Linked DNA regions of Homo sapiens: region 2 is linked to region 1. The links come from fine-mapping of genetic effects on gene expression. Tissue or cell type: whole blood. Region 1 holds a variant in brackets; the other region holds the start of a gene. All regions are shown on one strand. Distances are from middle to middle.

The links. PIP is the estimated chance that this variant, and not a neighbour inherited with it, causes the effect.
Region 2: DHRS9 starts here. The variant in region 1 is fine-mapped to the expression of DHRS9 in whole blood (INTERVAL, PIP above 0.99).

The regions. Positions count from the first base shown.
Region 1 is chr2:169,100,534-169,108,753 of GRCh38, forward strand. No RefSeq gene overlaps it. Among named protein-coding and RNA genes, the nearest start is that of DHRS9, 35 kb to the left of the region's middle. The variant T/C (reference allele first, on the strand shown) is at 4,854.
Region 2 is chr2:169,066,419-169,074,638 of GRCh38, forward strand. DHRS9 (dehydrogenase/reductase 9) reads left to right here and starts at 3,145. Exons shown (of 5, transcript NM_001376924.1): 1 at 3,145-3,299.

The DNA.
Region 1 (8,220 bases):
TTTTTTCTTCTATTTTCTTTTTTGCATATAACACCTGCTCAAGCAGGAACCAGATCACAGTTCTTGCCTGATTAGTCCCTAGAAATAGCAATCCAGCCTAAAATAGTTCAGGCGAGAGCAACAGAGCATTCTCTCATTCTACAACTAGCAACTCTCCTGAACTGCTCCATTTTACTTCCTTTTGAGAAACTGGAAACAGAAAGTATTCTGCTATGAATACATAGTTTAAGTTCTGGGCAAAAACCATCTATCCCCGTATGTAGATAAAATATTTACTTACTGTGTTCTGGGTCTGTTTTCTCCTAGGTATGGCAACCGTAACTTGAGTATAATGCCACCCAATTAATGTTGATGCCTGAATTATGAACCAGGTAATCCAAACAACCTGACTTGCCATGGGCATAATAGGAGAAATAGTCATAATGATTGCTTAATACTTAAGTATAGGTCAGATTTTAAATACACTTTACTGTCTATTACATGAATGATTTCACGTAACCCTAATCATATCTCACTTACGTGTGTTTTTTAGAGATGGAGAAGTGAAATCACAGAGAGACAAGCAACTTCCTAAGGTTACACTGCTAGTGAGTGTGGGCCAGGGTTCAAGCCCAGGCAGCTTGATGTTGGAGCCGATGCTCAGAACCACCATGCTGTATTATTAAAAAGGATTTGAGGCCAGGCGCGGTGGCTCATGCCTGTAATCCCAGCACTTTGGGAAGCCAAGGTGGGTGGATCACCTGAGGTCAGGAGTTTGAGACCAGCCTGGCCAACATGGCAAAACTCTGTCTTTATTAAAAGTACAAAAATTAGCCAGGCGTGGTGACGGGTGCCTAAAAAAAGAATTTGAGTCTTAGACAGTATTTCCCTAAACTTTGATTCTGGTTCAACAAAAAACAAGACTGTTATTAAATTAATCTAGCATTAGTCTTACCTGGCCAATAACCAATTATGCATAAGAGTGATGCATAATTTTGAGCAATATACAAAGATATACCCCTTTTAGTTTTCCTGTATTCTATTTTCAAAATTTTCTCACTCATGATGACATAATAAAGGCACTTAAACATCATTCCCTAGATCCTTAAAGTTTTCTAACTAGATTTCTGGATTTTCTTTCTTTTTTTCTCTTTTTCAATCTTCTTTCTTCTTTTGTTGTTATGGATTTTGTCCATTTGTTGTTGTTAGTTGTTTCAGGAATTTATTTGCAATCACTTTTTGCTAATTTCAATAAAGGCCTTAGATCAACTGTTCTGACCCAAGATCAACACTACACATCTTCCAGCTTTTAAGATGAGACAAAAGAAAAAGAACAGAAGTCTGGGGTCCCACACATACTATGTTTCCAGATGACTGTATTTTTTTCAACAAATAGTGGGACAAACTATGCTGGTCCTTGTGGCTAGGGCCAGTCCTGGGAACACTAATGAGAGAAATGAGGGGACCTTAGCTGGAATGAGGTCAGGGCCTCCTGGCACTACCACACTGCAATCTCAAAAAAAAAAAAAAAAAAAAACAGTAAGTGGCTGGACTTTCTCATTTGGCTGGAAGAGGTCATATAGCTCATAATCTGTCTCACAGAGACACTTCCACTAAGAACATTCCCAAGATGACAAGTTTCTGCTCCAATACCACTAAAGAATGGACGGTCACCATCTTCCAATTTACCCTGTTGATTAGCTTTAGTTACTAGAACATTCTTTATAATTTTTCACCCAAAATTTCTCAGTGTGGATGAGGGGAGAAATGGCTATTGTTTCTGCTGCCATCATGATGATAATGGTTCACATTCACTGAGCCTTTAAAATGAGCCAGAATCTACCCAGAACACTATCTATGCACTTTCTCATGAAGTCTTTACAACTTTTGCACAACAGGTGCATTTATTGTCCCATTTTACAAATGAGGATTCTAAAATTCAAGATTCTTTCATCTCTAGTAATCTAAGATTCCTAAATGCCCACTTGATAAAATGCTCATTCCCAAAAATAAATATACAAGAAAAGCATAATTAGACAATGGATTTTAAAAGCCAAAATTCTTCATTAAAGTTCTTTCTGAACTCTGGAGCCACTGTAAATGAGAAACTCTAAAGCTCTGGGTGCTGAAAGCAGAAGTCAAGCCTCCTGGCCAGTCATCCCCAAGCACTTTCCCCATGCCTTCAGACCTTGAGAGAAATGATGGACAGTGTGTGCAGGCTCTTTCCACGTTCCTTCCACTCGCTCCAACCCCTGCTGCAAACACCCTTTTAAGAAATTAGACTTTTTTTCGTGAACAGAAATACATGCAGTTACCTTCATGCTTTACAAATGTCAATGCTCATTCTGAATGAAATAAACAAAAGTGTTCTGGTCAGAAAACCCTCCAAGCGCCCAAATGTTCTTTGGACCCCCTCCCAATTGGCCATTCTTTCACCTCCAAGGTGGAATGGAATCTGATCTGAGTCCTGTCCCTGCAAGGAGCATTTTTATCACTGACTTAGATGAAAACAAAGGCAGGTTTTGTTAACTCACCAGGGAAATACATGAGAAGACAGAATCTGGGTCTAAAATGCTGCTATGAGTTCTAACCATGGACTAACAGGATGAAATGGTACAGGGAAAGGTGCAAGGCTCTGTTTTGCTTCCAAAAAAGCAAACATGGGATTCAAAGCCACACTGTGAAAATAATTGAGGTATTTTATGCAAAAATCAGTTCCAAATGAATCAATGATGTAATATGACAGTGTGACTTAACTACTCCCCGCTTACCTCCAAAAGGAAAAAAAGGAAATCATGCTCTGATCTCATCCTAAATTTTAAATTTACAACATATAGAGTAAGGTTGGTAATGGTTATGTCTCCTCCCAGCTGCTCAGGGCTCTGGTAAAACTTGCCTTCACTGTTGGGAACTCTACACTTATAGAGCAACAGACACTTTGGAGTGGGCGGCAGGAGAGCAGATTATCTGAAGTCCAGGTTAGCAGAAGGCGCTGGGCTTGTTTGCTTGGAAGAGACTGAGGGAAGACAGTACGGCCCACTTAAAGGGGCCTCCCTGAGAACAGGAATTAAACTCATATCAGAGGGCACAGAGTGGCAGAGCCAGAGTCATGGGTGGAAGTTACACAGAGTTCAAGTTCAGCACCATAGAGGGGATTTTTGTACCACTAGGAGTTGGATCAAAGGGCAGCTGCCATTGGCAGGCAAGCACAGGAAGGACCACCCTTGGAATGGGGATGCCGGAGAAGGGAGTCAAGCAATATGGGGTTGCATTTGCTGACTTGGATGACATTTGAGGATTCTATGGCTGGACAGGGTCTTTCTTCAAATATGGTACATACCAGCATAAAGAGACCTAACCTTTCTAATCACTAAAACCGTGGGATGTAACAAGCCAAATATCTCTTGCTTCAGTTTTCATGAGGCCTGGAATTTCATTTCTTCAAGACTTGAAAGAAGCGCCTTAGCTTCTGATGAGGAGAAAGGAGGCAGCTGCTGAAAGGAGAGGGAATACACATCAAGATCAACTAAAGCTAAATTTCAGATCTTGCCCAGAAGCAGCCCCGAGGATTAGCACAGCGAAAAGGAGGCTGGAAGGATTCTTGGGGCAACCTGCAACCTGGGCATCCATAGCTAGTTTAATTGTGTGGGGGTGCAGTTGTCAGAAACATGTGCTCACTTCTTAAAACAGGTGTTATTAATGGATCCAGTATAAATTGAACAACAAAACTAGGAAAGAATATACAGTGAAATCTTAGTCTTCCTCTTCCCAGGCCTCTGGTCCCTAGCTAGGACTTTCTCCTGTGTCATTGCTGAGATGCATATATATAGACAATGTATAGATAACCTTTTCACATACTTTTTACACAAACGGTAGCATAGCTAGACTCCACATTTTCTCTACCTTGCTCTAAAACGTTCAAATTTTAATGAACAAAAGACTAGGAATCCTAAAAATAATGTTCACAGTCATCATTTTCAAATCTGGCCCTCCTTAGGCAATAGATGGCTATGATTCCATCAGTTTTACTTCTTCAGTGCCTGACTTAACCAACATATTGTCAACGAAGTAACAAATACAGACAGGCTCTCTAAAAGAAAATGATGTTTATTTGGGAGTAGGGCATTGCAACGGGAATGCAGGTGCCATAGTAAACTATGTGTGCATTCAGGGAGGTAAAAAAAAAAAAAAAAAGACAAGGAGTTTTAAAGGAAAAAATGAGAAGGATACATAATTATTTTGAAATGATTACCTTTGGCTACAAAGATCAATAACAAGGGTGATCAATAACAAGGTCTGCCAGTCTGAGGTTGGGCAGACAGTTCCTGGGAAGATGTCTTTGCAGAAGTATTTTTTGTGTAAGGTTGTGATGGCCTTTGTGCAAGGTTGTGGTTGTTGCAGTCTTTTATGTTAGACTTTTTTAAAATCAGGCATGCAAACATGAGAACTCTCTCTTCACAGCCTTCATAGCTCTATTTGTGAGGGTTTTTTTTTTTTTTTAACACAAGTGACTCCATTTTGGTTGTGACAACTTCACAACATGAAGTCATTCAATATCGATGCTGTTATTCCTTCATTAAATACATCTTGAAGTTAATATTCCCTATGCTCTTGTTTCCTCTCTAATTTATTGCAGCAATTATATTTACCCTGGATAAAATAAGAAAAAAGATAATTGTATTGACTGTAAGCAATTCTTATGAGTGTAATGCCATTTATCAACAATAGCATTTATAAGTGGAATCACCAATCCATTAATAAATCATTCTGAAGGTAAGTTACTCCTCTAAGTAAAGTTAATTAATTATTTCAGGCAACTATTTAGAAAATATGACCTTCCCTTTGCTGATCTAATTCCTGAAGAGTGTTTGATT[T/C]ACTAAGAGTCAGTTCCATGATACCAGCAGTCAAGGCTTCTAAAAGTAAGACATTGATTGAAACTTTCCCTTTATTTATTTCTTAAACCTGTTCTGTTTTTTAAATGAGTACCAGAGATCCACTTACTTGACTATTTGCAAAAAGTAGCAAATGAGGCATTAACAAAGTTGCCCTGTCTGATTCTAAAACCTAAACCTCTTTGACAGTTCGCTGTTAAGTAAACCACTTCCCTGCTGTGAGGAAATGGAGTCATCACACTCATTATTACCTTGAAATGACAGGGGAGCTGTTATGGGTTGAAATATATCACCCCAGCAAAAAATATATGTTGGAGTCCTAACCCCTACTACCTCAGAATGTGACCTTATTTGGAGACAGCCTCTTTACAGAGGTAATCAAGTTAAAATGAGGTCATTAGTGTGGACCCTAATCCAATATGACATATGCCCTTATAAAAAGGAAAATTTGGACACAGACACATAGGGGGAAGATAACATGAAGAGACGCATGAGAAGATAGCCATCTGCAAGCCAAGGACAGAGGCCTGGAACAGATCCTTCCCTCACAGCCCTCAAAGGAACCAACCTGCCAACACCTTGATTTCTGAATTTTAGCTTCCAGGAGTGTGAGACAACATTTTTCTGTTGTTTAAGCCCCACACTCTGTGATCCTTCATTATGGAGCCATGCGATGATGGGGCTATGGCATTGGCTTGGCAGCATGATGGAGTGAAACACTCCTCAGGAGTTCATCTAGCCCATCTTCTTGCCTCTGAGCATCTTTCCTGGATGAGTACTTTAAAAAAATGGTGAGAAATCTGTCTAGAAGTGCCTCATAGGTGGTCAAGAACAGAGACTCTTGGATCGAGCTCCTGGGGTCAAAACCCATCTTTGCCCTTAGCATTGGCTTGACCATTGGCATATTACTTAATTTCTCTTAGTTTTCTCATCTGTATAATGGGGGTGGGTGTACCTTGGACAGTTACAAGAATTAAACAAGTAAATGCATGTCAAATACAGCATAGTGCTTTTAATGTATTGTAGCTATGAGTATTATTCATTTTGTTGGCACTTTTTCAAATTAGCTTAGGTTCATGGCAGAACCTAGCTATAAGTTGGCCCGCACCTTGATCTGTTATTTGAATGGATTGGCCAAGGTCGAAGACAAGGACAAGAGCAACACTCTGACTTTTGTTCTTCCCTATTGTATAAGTTAGGTGTAACGAGAAGAGATCCTCAGCAGAACACTCAGAATGATGAGAGGAGATCTGAGACCTGTGGGGAAAACAACCACAACAAACATCCATTCATCACCATTTTCTCAGCACCATTGTGGGGAGTCCTACCCATGGCTACAGAGGAATGGCCCAAGATGGAAGCCTGGCCTGGCAATGCCTTCAGTTACCAGAAGGATGTTACTATACATAGTGGCAAAGTTGCAAGGCCCTTCAGGTCGCCAACACTCCTCCTAATTTCAAAGAAATTACCAGCAGGTAATTTCAAAGAAAAGGGAATAGAGGCCCTGAAAGGTGAGGAGACTTAAATAATACTATGTCAGATTCAGGACAGAGCAAGAGTTGGATACGAAGAAATGGGCTTCCTCTATTGCGGGAAAGATAAGAGAGTTCAGTTACACAGCAGGAAATCTGACCCCAGAGACTGACCAGAATAGAGAACTAAGGGCATGACACCCTCAGCCCTGTAAAGTTGTAGAAATAAGATGATAATGATGATGATAATGGTTATTACCAAATGTTGAGCAACTGTTCAATAACAGCACTAATTGTGTGTTCATTGGCTAATTGTTAATTAAACTGTGTTAACTGTTTTGCATGCGTGGTTACCTCATTTAATCTTTCTACAACAACCTTGCAAGACTATGAAGAGGAGCAGAGCTCAGATAGGGTATGAAACTTATCCAGAATCTCAGAGCTTAAGGGATAGCAGTTGGGACCACCAACCTCTACTTCAGACAGCCTCCTGCAGGCAGCAACCAGCAACAGATGCCGCTAAGGGCCCTTCTGGCTCTGTGGTTGTATGTTTTTAGAATATCTAAGTCACAGCCATGAGAAGTTTTATCTTTTATCAGTGAAGTCAATTCACTTGGTCATATAGAGTTTTGAACTATGAAAACTATTATTATAAAAAATAATTACCACAATCACTTTGGAGAAAGAACAAGTTCTCATACCAAATCTTTGATGAATTTGCGTCTGATGTTTTCTGTTTTTTTATTTTCTAGAGACAGGTTCTTGCTATGTTGCTTAGGCTGGTCTCTAACTCCTAGGCTCAAGTAATCCTGCCACCTCAGTTTGCAGGCAGCTGGGACTATAGGTATGCACCATCCCCGGCTTGCATCTGGCATTGATTGTTTCTGTGTTACCATAAACTTGCAGAAATACTTGCTTTTCCGCAAGGTAATGATAGCAGCACTTTCCCTTGCACTTTTCTAGCACAGTGTAATGAAATGCAATAGAAACCACAGGAAATACTGTGGTCAGGTTTTGAACCTGAGCTATCACCCTCAACCTGAACACTGTGACAAAGGTACTGTGAATTTTTTTTTAAAAGGGAGGTGACATAGTGAGGAGGTCCTGGTCCTTTTTTAGTGTCAAATCAGCCTGGGCATGATGAGAAACACCATTGGAGGAAGACTGAGGTACCTGACTCATGGCTGTTGGTTACCAATGCCTCCACTTAAACCCAAACTAAGAAAAAAACAGGGGGACCCCACCTAGGAGGCCCTCTCAGCTCCCAGAAGCAGTCTGATGGAGAAGGGATGTGATAGGAGGCCTGCCCTTGTGAGAACTGACATATTTCCTACACTTAGCATTTTATTTGGCTCCAAGTTAGGTGACAAGCAGATCCTAAGTGCCTTCTGTTTTCAAAGCCAAGTAGAGATTGCATAACATCTCTATATCTTATCCCTAGATGGTTAAAGTACCGATTGCTCTCTCATTTCAGCAGGAAGTGAAGTAAGACCACCTACATTTCTGTAAATTGCCAAGGAAGCTTGCAAAAGGTACAGTATGTACCCAAAATAAGTTCATACAGAAAGAAAGTGTGAATGAATAACAGCAGAAAGATATATCCTTTGTTGGATACATTTTATGTAGATATGTGCTATATGCATCATCTAATATAATCTTCTCAACGACCTTATGTGGTAAGTGCCACAATGATGCCTCATTTTACAGATGGAAAAAATAGAGATGTGAGAGAGGTAAGTGTTGTGCCCAAAGACACACAGATGCATATGTACACAGGGGACTAAACTGGGACTCAGCTGTCTGCCTTGTCAGACACTTGTGGGCCTCTCCATCAACCTGTCTCTTCCCACACACAAAGCGACTTTTCAAAATGACCT
Region 2 (8,220 bases), 34 kb before region 1:
GATTGAAAGAAACTAGGAAACTTGGCAGGAAGATCATTCTTAAGCCAGGAAAAAAATTTTTAATGCTCACATGTGAACATGTGATGGTCATACCAGAAGGAGCACCCACCTCCCTCCCTCTGTGACAGACACATTTTCTTAGCCTTCACCTTTCCTTCTTTCAAGTTGCTGAAAATCCACAGTGTTTCTGTTCATTTGTTACTTTCATTCTCACCTATCTTCTCTCTTGCTCCATCTACCAGAACAATAATTCCCCATATAATACTTCTCACTTCACTTTTCAACGCAGGACCTCTTGTTGGGTAAGCTAAAAGGATATGTGCTCTGTAAATAAGAAAAATCTTTATTCAAAGAATCTATCAAATGTTCCCATGACTCCATCTCTATTTGTATATCTAAAGATTGCATAGTAGAGAAAAACAAAAGATTAGCCCTGCTTCATCTTACAGCTGGGAGAGTCATGAAAGGCCAAATGGGTAACAAAGCTCCTGGTTTTGACCAAGCCTAGCCAAAGAAGCTACTCAAATGTCAAAGGCATTGTTTGTATAAAAAGGGAACCAAAGTACAGGTTCCCTTTACAGTAGAAATAAGAGAACTCCCTGTTGACAAAGGGAGGAGGAAGAAAATATAAAGTACACTTTTAAAACATGAAGTCTTCATAGCAGCTTATAGTCGTTCAGAGAAACATGTTCCACTGAGAATGACTTGAGAGAGAGGATTACATCATTATGCCAGAAGGAAGAAGCCACTGTGCATGCTCTATCACCAGCCTCACCCTCCTGGTCAGCCTTACAAGAGTGACACTGGATATACTCCAGAAGTTGGACCCACCACAGCCTGCACACTGGAGTAAGTGCTTTCCTCCAGTTGAAGCTCATCTTAGAATGATCTGTGACTTAGACCATCCCCAGAATGGTGTAGTTGCAGGAAGCCTAACGTATGTCTCCTGAGACAGCCTCAGATCTGAGTTTCCTCCTTATGTTTTGGTATTTGGAAAGGGGTGGAGAAGATACTCTTGGGTAGAAGTATGGGAGGCATACAGATTCAGAAGAAAAAGGATAACTCTATCTTTAGTGTGTTGTCTGTGGTGGCATCTAGCCTTACCACTGTATACTTACATTCCACCTACAAACATTAAAATAAAATGCACAGTGCACTCCTTTGTTTTAAAAAGGAACTAGGAAAAAACTCAAATGGCAATTTGGTTCCAGATTTTTTTTTTAATGTGATCTTTGATCTGAAGTCAATGTAGGATGAGTTCTGAACAAAGTAGCACTTTCAAAGGTTGTATATTAAAGAGGTGAAATGAAAGACAACTTGGCACTTGAGATATGAATTTGAATGTGTATATGGTTACAGTCTGGATAAGACACTGCTAACATGACTTCATTAACTGATCGCCTATGTGGGACCATTGGACAAGGAGAGGGGGTGTTCTGGCTGTGGTGCCATATACTGAAACTGAACCCATGAGTTGGGCCCACAGGAATTGAGGGACAAGCCAGATAGATGGCAAGAATTCTAATTTCCAATATGCAAATCAGTCTAAACATTTGACTTTTTTTAAGTCTATTTGGAAAGTTTTTGAAACACGGCTGCACTAGGCGAGTTCATTAAGTAGCAAAATTTTAACTATTGTTATAACTTTTTCTTTGCCCTTTTCAGTTAACACTGCATGACCACCCAGGTGCATGAGGCTCTCTTCTCCTCTTAGTGACAATAACAGGCTCACAGGAAGGGTTCAGTATTAATTATTTATACCTTACTTCATGTGGCTCTAAGTCAATGTATTGTCTATGAGGTTTTATATTTAAGCCATACTTATGAAATGCTAAAGAGGAAAAAGCATATTTAGCACATTTGGGGCACCCTAAATGTGAACCTGAGTAAATTTCAGTTTGTTTGTTTGTTTGTTTTTGTTTGTTTTGAGACGGAGTCTCACGCTGTTACCCAGGCTGGAGGGCAATGGCGCGATCTTGGCTCACACGCAACTTGGCCTCCCAGATTCAAGAGATTCTGTCTTAGCTTACCAAGTTGCTGGGATTACAGGTGCCCACCACCATGCCTGGCTAATTTTTTGTATTTTTAGTAGAGATGGGGTTTCACGATGTTGGCCAGGCTAGTCTCAAACTTCTGACCTCAAGTGATCCGCCCGCTTTGGCCTCCCAAAGTGGGTTTGTTGTTCTTTTAAAGAAAAAAGACCACTACTTATTTTAAAGGGTGATAGCAGTGTCCTGACTCTACCTAGACAGATATGTTCATTCATGTGCTCATTCCAGTTGAACCATAATAACTGCAATTTTCAAAGGAGGAATACAGAGTCTGGGAAATCAGAAGAGTATAGCAACAAACTGGTATACGAGGAAACTGAAAATGAAAAATCAGCAAAGTGGTATTTGTACCTGCCTGAGTGGCTACAGTGGTGAAGGTGAAGGGTGGCAGGCTAGATTAGCACCATCTCCTCCCCTCCTCGCCTGCGGCCTCAGTACTTTCCACTGTGGTCCCAGGATACGCCAGGTCAACTGTGATCAACTCTGACACAGACAAACTCTGGGAGGGGAGGAGGCATCCTTTCCTATTCTCAGCGGTCTCAGTTCCAGAGACCACTTTAGTAAGCTCTCCTTGTCATACCTTAAAACATAAATTAAGACCCATAAGTAATTCCAAAACCTCATTTTATTATGTTGTTTTTATCTCCTTGCTCGCCCATCTTAAAAAAAATGGTAACACCAATCTCAGAGACTGATTTCTCCTACTTATTCTCTTAGGAGGGAAGGAGTGTTAAATAAGCCAAGGCATGCTAACAGGAAGGAAAAAATGGAGATTATGAAGAATAATCACAATTTGAAAACTATTAAAACCACGCACCAGGCAGTTTACAAAATATTTATTTCTTTGTTATATTATTTCTGCTGCTGAATTTGGTCAAGAGATTGTACTAATCATAAAATGAATGTTATTGATCATTTTAAAGTCTCTTCTAAAAGTAGCTAAATTTATACTGCTGATTCCTTTTGAAACATGCGACCTACAGCTTCTTGGCTTTTATGAGCTATTCAAGAGATATTTAGTCATCACGTTGTGTCACAATGGGAGTGACTCACAGAGCAAGGAGAGAACCTGAGGATTCCTCACACATGTAGTACTCAGAGCTCTACGGAAACCCAGGCACCTCGACCTCAAGAGGATCAGCCTGGCCAGGGTGGCACAACTCTTCCTTCCCCGTGCACAGCAGGAAAGCTGCCATCAGCTGAGCAAGTCCACCAACAGTTTCTGTGTCCCACTTCATCTTTAATAAGGTAACTGATGACAGTTTTGTCATTTATTCTTTTATTTATCAAGTCAATCTAAACTTTCTTTGATTTTCCTCACTCTTGCAGAATGAATCGGTGGTCTTTCAAGCTGTGGTCAATGTTGCTACTTCTTTTAATGTAACACATTAGAACCCAGTGATGGGAGCTGGGTCCATCTCACCATAGAAATGACCTCGGTGTGACCTGGGATCTTGCCTTGAACTCCTCCAGGACTCTCTTTGAATGTCCTTTAGCACCCTAGTGTCCCAATTCAATTCATATTTTATTTTCTCTGTGCCTTCTTGACACTATCTGTGAATCTTATGATTAATTGGAAACTGGAGGGGGAAGTCTCCAAAAAGCACAGGATTCTTAGATGAGTTTCTTACTGAAGCAGCAGATTCTCTGTCAACTGCAGGTCTGATCTGTTTGTCTGTCCGCTTTATCAATATTATCAGATGTAAGTTTACATGAATACACACACATATTCACTAAACTGAGGGGAAAAAATGCCTTGTAGGTCATAAAAAAGCAGGGAAATTCCCAACAATTCATATTTGATCCCTGGATCCAGGGGTGGCAGCAATAAGCCTGCTTTAGATATTTACTCCCCATTTTATGATCCGGTGGTTTGGTTTTTCAAATGATGATATGGCTCCTTTCGCAATGACTTGATGTTTAGGAGGTGTGCTTCAATAAATACATTTTAAAATCAACAATCAAGTTAGAGTTGTACAAATGGCTCTGAAATGTCCCACTACACTGTTAGACCAAGGGCACAGATTGTGCTTCTGTACTATTTATCCTAGTATCCCTCGGCATATATTAACTGCTCTAAAAATCTCCTTGGCTACACGCTGCATCAAATCAAAGTTAAATGTTATACCACCTTTCTATTCTATTTTTAATATTCAAAGAGGGTGCTCAGATTTTAGAACAAATTTCAATGTTTAAGTACACACAAAAAAATCATTAACTCATATATTTCAAGAGTAGGAAATGGGAACTGGTGTTAAAACTCTTATAACAAATGTCACTGTCTTAAGGGACAGTGTTTAAAAACGCATACCTGGCCGGGCGCGGTGGCTCATGCCTGTAATCCCAGCACTTTGGGAGGCCGAGGCCGGCGGATCACAAGGTCAGGAGATCGAGACCATCCTGGCTAACACGGTGAAACCTGGTCTCTACTAAAAATACAAAAAATTAGCTAGGCGTGGCAGCGTGCGCCTGTAGTCCCAGCTACTTGGGAGGCTGAGGCAGGAGAATGGTGTGAACCCGGGAGGTGGAGCTTGCAGTGAGCTGAGATCACGCCACTGCACTCCAGCCTGGGCGACAGAGCGAGACTCCGTCTCAAAAAAAAAAAACAACAACAACAAAAAACTCAGACCTTTTCTTCTGCTCAAAGATCACTGTGGCTGAAATATACTGAAGTTTTAAACACACTTTTGGAACCTATACATATGTTCTATGTTCTAAGCTTTCCTTAAAGCCTTGTGACTACAAATGATAACTGTACACAACATATAATCTTTCCCAGATAGCAATTGTTATGCAGTGACCATAAATAAAGTAATCATAGCTTTAACAATAATTTGTAACCTGCTAATACTGTCAGGAAACATTGTCAAAATAATAAACCTAGGAGGGACTTGGGATAATTAATGAATAGTTAGGGATGTGATGGTGAATTATAATTTAAACGTTTTGAAGGAAGGCAAAAGAAAATCAGAGATGCTTTTATCCTTAGAACTAAAAATGCAAAATGTAAATCCAGCAGATCTTCCCTATTTGAGGCAGTTGGTACACCTCTGCTAGGAGGGAGGGAAGCTACATCCTGAGGAGGCTGTCTGAGTGAATCTGTAGTGGAAGTACACACGAACTCCATGCCTCGCTGTCCCAGTACCCAAAGCACAGTCTGGCTGCCAAGGATTACCTCCTGCCCTCAGGGAAGCAGGAATCAAGGGCAAATGTAACTAACCAGAGGAGGAGCTTCTTCATCCATTGAGTAAGGGAACTTACCCTCCCACGACGATAAATACCAACTCAACTATATCATCAGCAGCATAATAATTATTATAATTGTTATTTCAGTCAGACTCTCAAAAAAGCATTCGTTGCTTAATGCAAGCACATTTAATGTAGGGTCCCTTGGTGCCATTAAAAAATTTTTTTTTCAGATTTCTGGGTGGACCATTTGAACACATTTCTCACAGAAACATAATTTTTTAGTTTATGTCAATAGGTTCCAGTGTTCATTTTTTTTTAAGTGTGGAAGAAATCTCTAAAAGCCACCTGGGTTTTTTTTTTTTTTTTAAACAAAACAAAACAAAAACCAGTTTTTTTTTACTTCAATGAAAAGGAAAAAATGAAAAAGGAATGTTGTGTTAAGTCAACCGGGTTTACAATATTCAAATATACAAGAGGCATACATGTTCAGTGGCTTTCAGTATTCAGAAAGCCATGCAAGAGAACTCCAAAAAGAGAATACTTTAGAAAATCATTGCTCAATGTTTTCTATTTGATGTATTTTGGTAAACAACATAGTTGTTGATTCAACTTGGGCCACAATTGCAACACATTGGAAGTAAATAAAGATTCTACAAACTCCTGACAGTGTGGTTGACTAGCTTTGGTATCGCTTTCTAAAAGGAAACACTTCATGAAGTTATGTGGAAATAAAATCAACTGGTCTGGGAGGAACTATCTAGAAAGAACTCTACATTGCTTATAAAAAGTATACCTCACAATAATATTGAGATATTTTCTGTTCTTTTTTTTAAACTGTGTCATTTATTTTTAAGAAACAGAGGAAGGTGAATAAGAGAAGTGAAATTAAATAATCCTATTTTAACTTTTTTACTAGGAAAACAAACTCAGGAAGAAAAAGAAAAGCAGAAGTGATCAAGGAGAGCGCTCGAGTTGCAATATTTTCCTTTGGCTGCTGACAGGCAGTTACTATAAAGCATTGTGCATGGTGTATGAAAGACAAAACTAGTTCTCCTTTCTTGGTTTCTTTTGAATCTTTGTGATATGGTAGAGAAAGTTTGATAAAGTGTTCTTGTGCCTGCTGTCGACTGATAATGTGTTCATCTCTTTGCAGTTCTTCCTTCTCTTTCACACAGTTTAGAGTTCAGAGAGTTTTAGTTCTGGTCACTCTCTGGCAAGTGACCATAGTTATGACCTCTACTCTACACCAGAAATATCTTGACAATTACATGAGATAAATATTACATAAACACTTCCCAAAACTTTGTAATGTTATCAAAATTGGAAGTGTGAATATTATGTATTATTATAATTGCTATCATCCTTTTGCCCCAGCGATTCAGAGGTCTCAAAGATTAATCCAATTATCACTAGAACTCTGGAGCTACAGTGGAGACTTCCTTCTTTCCTTCCTTTTTTCCTTCTTTGCTGTACAACATTTACTAAACATCAACATAATGCCAAGTATCATACAAGGAACTGGTAATGTAGAGAAGTATATGCAGAGCCCAGAGTTGAGTGGGAATACAGACTGCAGTGGTAGAACAGAATGGTCTGGGTATCAGTCCCGGAATTGCCACTACAACTGTAGCTGGAGCCAATTAAACAGAGCTTCTGAATGTGTTTCCTCCTCTATACAGTGAAGATAATTTTGTCGTAAGGTGTAAATAAGATAAATATTTATAGATCCTAGGAAACGGCCTACAACATGTTAGGCACTCAATGAACCATAGCAGTTATTATCATTCCTCCCTGACTTGGTCAACCAGGAACTTGAGAATCATAGATTTGCTAGGAGGATATTTTGAATTCTGTAGGGTCAGTTGGCCACCCACCAAAGGGTACCCCCAGAGGAGCTGGGGGTCAACAGCATGGGGTAAACCTTGAGGGAGGGAACAGATGGGAGGTGATTGGATGAAGAGATTTGGGTGAGGACACAGAGCCAAACCATATCAGCCTCTTATCCTCCTGATGACAAAAAGACATTTTAAAATATTTATATAGAGGGAAATTAATGCTTGCAGCAGCAGGATATGAGTAATTTTTATAAGTAACCCAACTTTTCCATGAGGCCATTAAAAAAAGAAACTCATCAATGTGATACTACCAAGGAACCAATGACTAAGTTTCCAGAAAAGTAGTTCTAGTGCTATGATATTCTGGACTCCCAACACTAGGAAGTTCTAGAACAGTGGTTCTAAACTGGGGGATATTTTGTCCTCCAGGGGACATTTGGCATTATCTGGAGACATTTTTGGTTTTCACAACTTGGGGAGGGGTGCTACTGCTGACTAGAGAGTAGAGGCCAGAGATGCCACTAAACATGCTAAATGCACAGGACTGACCCCACAACAAATAATTACCTGGCCCAAAATATCAAAATTACTCAGTTAGAGGAATCAATGCCTAAATATGAGCAATACATAGAGCAGACTGCCTCATAAAGTGAAAGTGATTCACCCTGCCATGAAGATAACAAAGTTCTTACTGTAACGGCAGACATTAGGTCACTTCACCCAGTACTCTCCAAGGTAGATGTTGTATTTCTACTTTACAGGTAGGAAAATGGAGGCTAAGAAAAGTTAATTTGTCCGAGGGCCCTCTGATGATAGTGAAACTGGGATGGAACCTCTGCCTGCTTGCTTCTGAGGTCTGGGCTCCTAACTACTGCTCTACTGCCTCGAGCCAAGAGATTTACGCCCTATTAAGCAATTTGTTGTGCGATAAATTGGAAGACACAGCAGATAAGCAAACAACTCAAGCAACCAGGTCAGTTCCTGGAGTTTCTGAATTGTTGGGACCAAGGGGCCGTGCAGAGGTAACCACAGCTGGCGTAGTGTGGTTGAGGTAGCCCTATTAGCCTTTTAGTTGCTGTTACTAATTTATTTCTCAGTGGTCAATGAACCAATTGGCCATCAATCAGCTTTGTGTATAGGTCATG